2 linked regions of the Homo sapiens genome follow. The protein of the gene in region 1 interacts with the protein of each later gene in a biochemical or structural test. Each region holds a gene or a part of one and is shown on either strand. Other genes may lie near its edges.

Evidence for each region. The genes of interacting proteins can lie anywhere in the genome.
Region 2: the proteins of DTNA (region 1) and DMD form a complex in vitro, tested with the Homo sapiens proteins (3 studies listed by BioGRID and IntAct, with this or other methods).

The regions. Positions count from the first base shown.
Region 1 is NC_000018.10:34,888,191-34,891,943, reverse strand, and holds the end of DTNA (dystrobrevin alpha), read right to left. Parts: 3' UTR 1,645-3,753; coding exon of another isoform or gene 1,504-1,644; 3' UTR 100-1,503; downstream 1-99. UniProt on the Homo sapiens protein: May be involved in the formation and stability of synapses as well as being involved in the clustering of nicotinic acetylcholine receptors.
Region 2 is NC_000023.11:33,204,874-33,208,626, forward strand, and holds part of DMD (dystrophin), read right to left. Parts: intron 1-3,753. UniProt on the Homo sapiens protein: Anchors the extracellular matrix to the cytoskeleton via F-actin. Ligand for dystroglycan.

The DNA.
Region 1 (3,753 bases):
TGGATCTCTTAATTTGATTGCTGTTGCTGTCACCACATTGACTTCCTAGCCCTGCTGATCCTCCTTTATCACTAGCTCTAGAAAAAAAAACAAACCAAACACCACTAATTCATTTATTCAGTAATTCAACAAAAAAACCATTGAGCACTTAATATTTGCAGAATACATGGCTAGATGCAGAGGATTCAAAGAATTGAGTGAAGTCACATAAAGTGTTAAGAACAGTGTGTGATACAAACATGAAATATGTTAGCTGTTAGAATTTCAAACTCACTTCCATATCAATTATAATAAGGATTTCCATAAATAGCAGAATAGTATTTCTATTAGATGCTCACAGATGCTAATAAAACAGTAGAATGGTAAAAACCATGCATCCCCCAAGGCAAGAGAAGGTGAGCTATTTTGCCTCGGTGGCTCAATATTCCATCAATGGGTCCTGCTTTAAACTGCAAGTACCTGCCTTCCTTCTTTCAACAGACTGACTCCACGTTGCTTTAGGAAAGATTCACTGAAACAAAGGAATAAACCACCCAAGATATAGTGTTTTTAAAAACATTTTTTAATGAAGAAATTATTCCACTCCAAAATATAGACACACAATTAAATAGTTTAATCACTTCAAAATATAACATGTCCCCAGGAGGTTCCAACACACACACACACACACACACACAAAACAATACTTAACAGCAATACAAAAATCCATACAATAGTATTTTTTTTTTACAATACCAATGAATATTGTGAAATCTTTAGTGTCTCTGAATTGATTATTTCAAATGGTGTCAAATTGCAGTAGTCATAATTAAAAATGTCTTACAGTTAATTCGCCTCAAGATGCAACACTTCTGATTTTTTTTTCTCTTTTTGGTTCAAAAGTAAAAATGCCCTTTCTTCTAAGGACAGTGGAGTTCTCACTTGTGGCTCCTTGCGTGGAATCGAACCAAGGGGAATGCAGCAACCAAAGGTTGCTGGATTTACAAGATCTATCTACGGTTAACAGCCAAGAACTAATAAGGGTGGACAAAGATGATCAAAATAAAAGCAGACATCAGTGCTAAATTATGATGCAACAGTTTGGCTCATGCATATAAGAAAATACATAGTATATCACAACAAAGGCCACACACTCTTAATGCAATTCAGTTCACATTACTACTTACAAATGAACCTTCCCTGCCTTATAGTAGATCATTCAAGAACCCATTTTTCACAATCTCCAGCACAACTCCCTCTGACCAACCAAACTTACCCCAACTTCCGTCCTGACCAACCACAACTGTTTCCTGAATCCCATGCAGTAGATTTCACCTTCCTCCCCTCCTCCATTAATATGGCGCTGTGGAGGAGGGTTGGCTGTGTTAGACCAGTGCTTATTAACAGGCTATCAGCTCTGATGGAGATGGATGTGCAATTCATTGTGGAACAAGAAAGAAACAACCCCCGCAAGATGTAGTTGTATCTAATGGACAGGACAAGTGAAACTTGCTGGGTTTGCACTTAGAACAGGCCCCAAAAGTAAATCTGGAGAGCCAAGGAAAGAAACCCACCAAAAAACACAAAACCCCAAAATAACACACGCCATTTTGTCTCGCTTACAGGACAGGGGTGCTCGAGTCTGGTCTCAGTGCTGACGTGGAGCTAAGAGAGAGAAAAGGTGGCTGGTTAGTCAGAAATTGGTCATTGGCGGCAGTTTCCAGAGTCCTTGCAATGGCTTTATATGACGATATCAACAACCATGTGATGGAGTTGGTTGGCAATGAAATAGCTATGACAACGGGGAAGGTTATCAGCAGAACAGTTCAAATCTTAGACGAACATTTTGATGTAGAAACACAAAGAAACAACATATGCCAGCTCGGTCCAGTCAGTGGTGGAGTGCCACGTGCAGGATTTAAGTTCTGAGTTCAAGAACTACCTGGCTATGATTTTGAGCTGACAGCATTATAGGTAGCTGGGATGTAGTGGTTTTCAATACTGAGTATGAGGCACCAGTGGCCACCTGCTCCATCTAGAGAGGTATGGGTTCACAGAGGATGGGCAGTGGAAAAGAGATGAACATTAAGACACCCCAACAAAACCCGCAATAAAAATCAATCTGTGCAAAGAAATCTGAGAACTGTGCAGTTGTGCCACTTTGGTGTCAGCCTGTGCTCAGAGACATTTGTCAGGTGAGTTCTCTGGAGAGATATATGATTAAGTATGTCAAGGGATAGGATGGGCTTCTCACTAATGCCAATTGAGCACTTTATCCCCAAGGCAAGTGATTTGGTTTCAAAGGGCAGCCAAGGAGATGATGTCTGACCAAACGCAGACATGTGAACATCGTACAGCCGCCCTCTGCAGAGGGGGCATGAAGATGTCAGGACTTGGCTGGGCACCTACCAACTACGAACTTGGTGTGTGGGTTCAGAGAAGGTTTTTGCCAGCCCCAGAAGCAAAAGTGAATCACAGAACCTTTCTTGCTTATTCTGAATAAGGCCTTTTCAGAGACTTTATTATACGACTTCATTCTAAAGCAGTAGTTCTCAACCTTTAGCGAGCATCAGAATCACCTAGAGGGTTGACTAAAACAGACTTCTGGACCCAACCCCCAGAGCTTCTGATTCAGTAGGCCTGAGGTGGGGCTTACAAATTAGTATTTCGAAGACCTTCCTAAGTGTTGCAGATGCTGCTTGTCCGGGGAACACACTTTGAGAACTATTGTTCTAAAATGTTCTCTCCTTTCTTTTAAAGGAGAGACAGGAATTCCAGAGAAACTGCTAATTTAAGCATAATGTATTGAATAGGTCGCAGGCTTTTTTAAAAAAATCAAATCTTGAAGCAAGTAGAAGATTACTTTTTCTTTTTCCCCAGAATTCCCAAAGGAGGTCTTTAGGGCCCTCTAAAGAGGGTCCTTGGAAAAGACTATCCCAGTCTTTTATCCTCTTGTCTTTGATAGCTCTTTTGCACTTCAGCTTTTCACTGAGTGCAAAAATCCCAACTCAACTTAGAAGAGCCTGTCTCCTTTCACATGACCACAGAAGGCTACATGCAGAACACCAGGTGGCCAGCTAAGGCAATCAACATTCAGAAAAAAAGGAGAGCAAACGTTTGCAAGCGCACTTTAAGCCTGTACATTTAAAGCTGAAGGCCTCCAAACAACTTGATGGGGGAACTTGTGAACGAGCGGTGCTGTTAAAGACATGCTTCCTAAAGCCAAAACGAGAGGAACAAGACCATGGAAGAGCAGAGATAACTTTAGTCCGTTTGGGGATCTTATGGCACCTGTGGTTTATAAACAGCTTTAGTAACGAGTATTTCAAAACATAGTTCACAGTTTTTAAGAAGATCTGTGCTGATTTTAAAAACTAGATTCTATATAATTTGAATGCTGCCTTTTTTGAATATGATATCTATTTGGAAAAAAAAATATTTACACTAAATTCTATGGCTGATTAGAGTATCTTGAAAGAAAACAACCTCGAGTTGGAAAGAGGCCCCAAAGAATGGATTATTCCTGGTGTGTTTGGTTCAAGTCACTGCTCACAGAGACTTGGAGTCAACTACAGACCGTGCAGGCCAAGGACCCTTCTTGGCTTCCGGGCTCTGAGTTTGTACACTCAGGAACCAAATTCTTCAGGGTTATTGAATGATTGCAAGTGGTTGTTTTTTTCCAATTGCTGTGAAAAAAATGTACAGTGTATAATAAACTGTTTTGCTAAAATCTCAAAGAATTCAGAAATCAAACTTCTAGCTATAAACAGTATT
Region 2 (3,753 bases), on another chromosome or scaffold:
TCCATTTTCAGACATTTAAAGTAAAACACTGCAAAAGCCATAGGCTTGAGCAAAGTGAACCTCTGTGATAACACTTGGTGCTCTCTGACAGCCCATTAGAGACGGGGTGTGTACACCTAATCCAAAGGAATCCTCTAGCTCTTCAGCAGCTGTTCACATGGCTCATGCCCTGCCCTTCAGCGTCTACTAAATCAGGATTCCCCAGCTGTCTGAGCTTCCCGTAAGCGATTTTAGTTAACCACCTACAAGCCAACATTTCTTGCATCTGATTACGCTCTTTAAAGTCTAATTTCCCTTTTGCTTCCTAGTTATTTTGCAACATGTGAGTCATTGGGATTCATCATTTTTACAGATTATTATTTTTTCACTTACTCAACTAGTTTATTAATATTTTGTTCACTTAGTCACCAATTTATTTCTAATACATCGTTCTTAAGCACCAACATAAAAAGGAATTACTCAATTTGCCTTTGATGAAAATACGTGGGCCATTCTGATTTTGTGATTTTTCTTTCTTATTTCTTTAATTTTTCCTCACACAGCTTCCAAGGCTAAAATCTGCACTTGTAACAGTGTACTGACTCCCTTGCCCTTTAAGTCAGCACTTAGCTCAGGCTAAGGTACTATTGCAACCGTAATCTGATAAAGGAAGAGACAAGTTGAGTGCAAATAAAGATGAGTGCCAGGAATGAGAAAAAAGCTACTGATGTTTATGCCCTTTTATAGTCCTGATTCCATGACAGTCTTAGCCAAAAGCAGAGTGGAAGAAGGGAGAACGCTTTAAAACAAAACAAAACAAAAGCCAAGAAGAGGGTAAAAACATTTAAAGGGTAAGCATTTTATTTGCCCATAATTGGAAATAATATGGGACACCGTAATGGTAATTGTGCTCAGCTAACACTGACCTTTTTTAAAAATCAAAATTTTCATGATAGTGAAGACAACACATTTAAAAGTTGACAAATTAGCAAGAGACTTCGTGATATATATGTGAATTCCTCATTGTTGATATGCCCATGTATGGTTTTCATATTTATTAAATATAAACAAAAAACATCATGATTCGAGCATCTGATTTTTTGAAGTTTCTTTAAAATTATCTTAATCCTCTCCAAAACCCATTAAGCCATCTACATTCTCATTTCATTACATGGATAAGCATTGGCTTTAATAATGCATTTTAATGTACCTCCTCTTCGTTGACACAACCACATTTTTCTACTAAAATAAATAACTAAACTAAAATGAATAATAAACAAAAATAAAGGCAAAGCTCTTCCTCAGATTCTTTTATTCAAATGGCAATTAGACCTACATATTATTCACCAGTCTTAGATATATTTCAGATTTCCAAATTGGCATGAGAAAATCAATTCATCAATTTGCTAGCATTTTTAATTTATGGACAATTATTTTCTTAAAATGGTATGTAATCAAAATACTGAGTTAAAAATTCTGAAAGAGTCATTTAAGAACAACAACAAACAACAACAGCAACAACATTTTATCAGCATGGCAAGGAAATGACAACTCCATTTCAATTAAAGGATCATTGTCCATTCTCCCCCAGTTCCCATTAGTGAGGAATGGGGTTCATAATGACAGAGTGAAAGTGAGGCATTGAGGGAGAAGGCAAAAGATCACAAAAGAAAGCAGGAATACATTGATTTCTAAACCAAATCCAGACTACTAAGAACATTGGTTTTCTCAGGGCTTACTATCATTACATATACTACGCAAAGTCACCTTCAGAGGTTGTAGGCCTCCAGAAAATTGCTCTGTGTGTTCCGTTGCCTACTGAAATTCCCAAGTATTTTGAACGAGTGATATCAGATTAAAATAAAGATCGAGCTCAGAGTTGAATAGAAATTATCCCTTAAAATGGCAGCCTAAACAGAAGATGTGAGCTATAAAAGAGGGAGTACTGATCTTTGTGTTTTTAATGGGAATGAGGTAGAGGTTGTATGGCCGTGAGATGAGGACTCTTTTTATTTTATTTTTTTTTAACTTTTAAGTTCAGGGCTACAAGTGCAGGTTTGTTACATAGGTAAACTTGTGCCATAGGGGTTTGCTGTACAGATTATTTCATCACCCAGGTATCAAGCCTAGTACCCATTAGTTGCTTTTCCTGATCCTCTTCCTCCTCCAACCCTCTACCCTCCGAAAGGCCCCAGGGTGTGTTGTTTCTCTCTATATGAGGACACTTTTAAGCATAAGACAGCAGAGCCATTTCCCTTCCTCATTCTCATTTGTCTGCTGCCTATCAGAATTGTGCTTAAGAAAATTTATATGCCCTTAAAACGCTGGAGCCAAATGTATTTTTTTGGTCTTTTTGTTGGGCCATATTCAAGGAAGTAATCTTGAATGGGGAAACAGAAAGGCTATGCCCTGGGTGTTAAAGTATTTCATAATCTCTAGAGGAGCCATCTGGTTTAAGAAGGCACATTGAATGCTATAATATGCTGTAATATATGAGGGAAACAGACTTTTTATACTATCAAGCCTTTCATGAAAAAATTTCATGAAAAAATAAACAAAATCATTTTAGCTTTTAATCTTGGAACTATATTTAGTATAGGAGTGATTCACAAATAGCAGAGTTACTCTCCCATTCGAAGGGGTTATCAGAATCTCTGGAAGACACATTCACTTTTAGTATTAAGTAGAGGGAGCTTGAAATTTTGCAAGGATTTTAGGGACAATTCTATAAGTGACATAAATAGAAAAAACCCTCCAAACTTGGTAAAATAATAAATTATCCCATGGTGTTGCCATTTTAACTTTGATATCTGTATTAAAATGAAACTTCAGAACTCCAAACATATGTCAATATTTTATAGCATGAAACCCCAAGGAAGTCTAACTAATAGATGTTTTACGTAGGGAAAAGGTGAAGACTACAAACTATTTATTTGCTTGGTTTGTTTGTTTTTTGAAGATCAGTATACTGCATTGAGCACACTCTACAAGGGGAAATATTTTCATGAAACCTGGTTGCATTTAATAAAAACGTTTATTTCCCACACTGCAGCCCATGACCTTCCCCAGAAAATATTCCAATACGAACCAACTGCCTTGATAACAGAACACAAACCTCCTAGGACTATAGCAGGACTTTGTGAGAAAGAAAACCATTGCCTCTCTCTGAATCCAATCAAAACCTGAATGTACTGTATAAAAATAAACCAAGGTCATCATTATTCCTTGTCATTGTGATTTGGCGTGCCTTCAAATTATATACCCTGTATATTTCAAATAACTGCACCGCCTCCATTAACTGAGTTTGACATCACTTTAATCAATGTATCTTTTCAGAATGAAAGGCAGAAATGTCAAATTCCTACCATTATAAATTCTTTTAACTCTCTAATCTGCATTAAATAAAAGGTTGTCTTTGAGAAATAATAAATGCTCTAAAGAAATATAACTAGCATCAATTTTATTTTAAAATGTAACTGGGAAAAGATTAAATGTCAACACATCTCTTCATACAGAGGTGATTTCCCAAGAAACTATTAAAGCCTTACTTACATGAGGGGCCCCTCCCAAGGCTGTATCCAATTTTCTATTATTTTTCTTAAAATAGCACCCCCAATTGTATAACCTCAGGCCCCATAAATCCTTTCTTCCTGGTTCGTTCTGTGTTGTCAGACAGGGAATGTACATTAGTCTCATTTGTCAATTCCTTAAAAAATGATGTGTGTTTAAAATAGAAAATTTAGAAAAATGAACAGAAAATTATCTTTAAAGAAA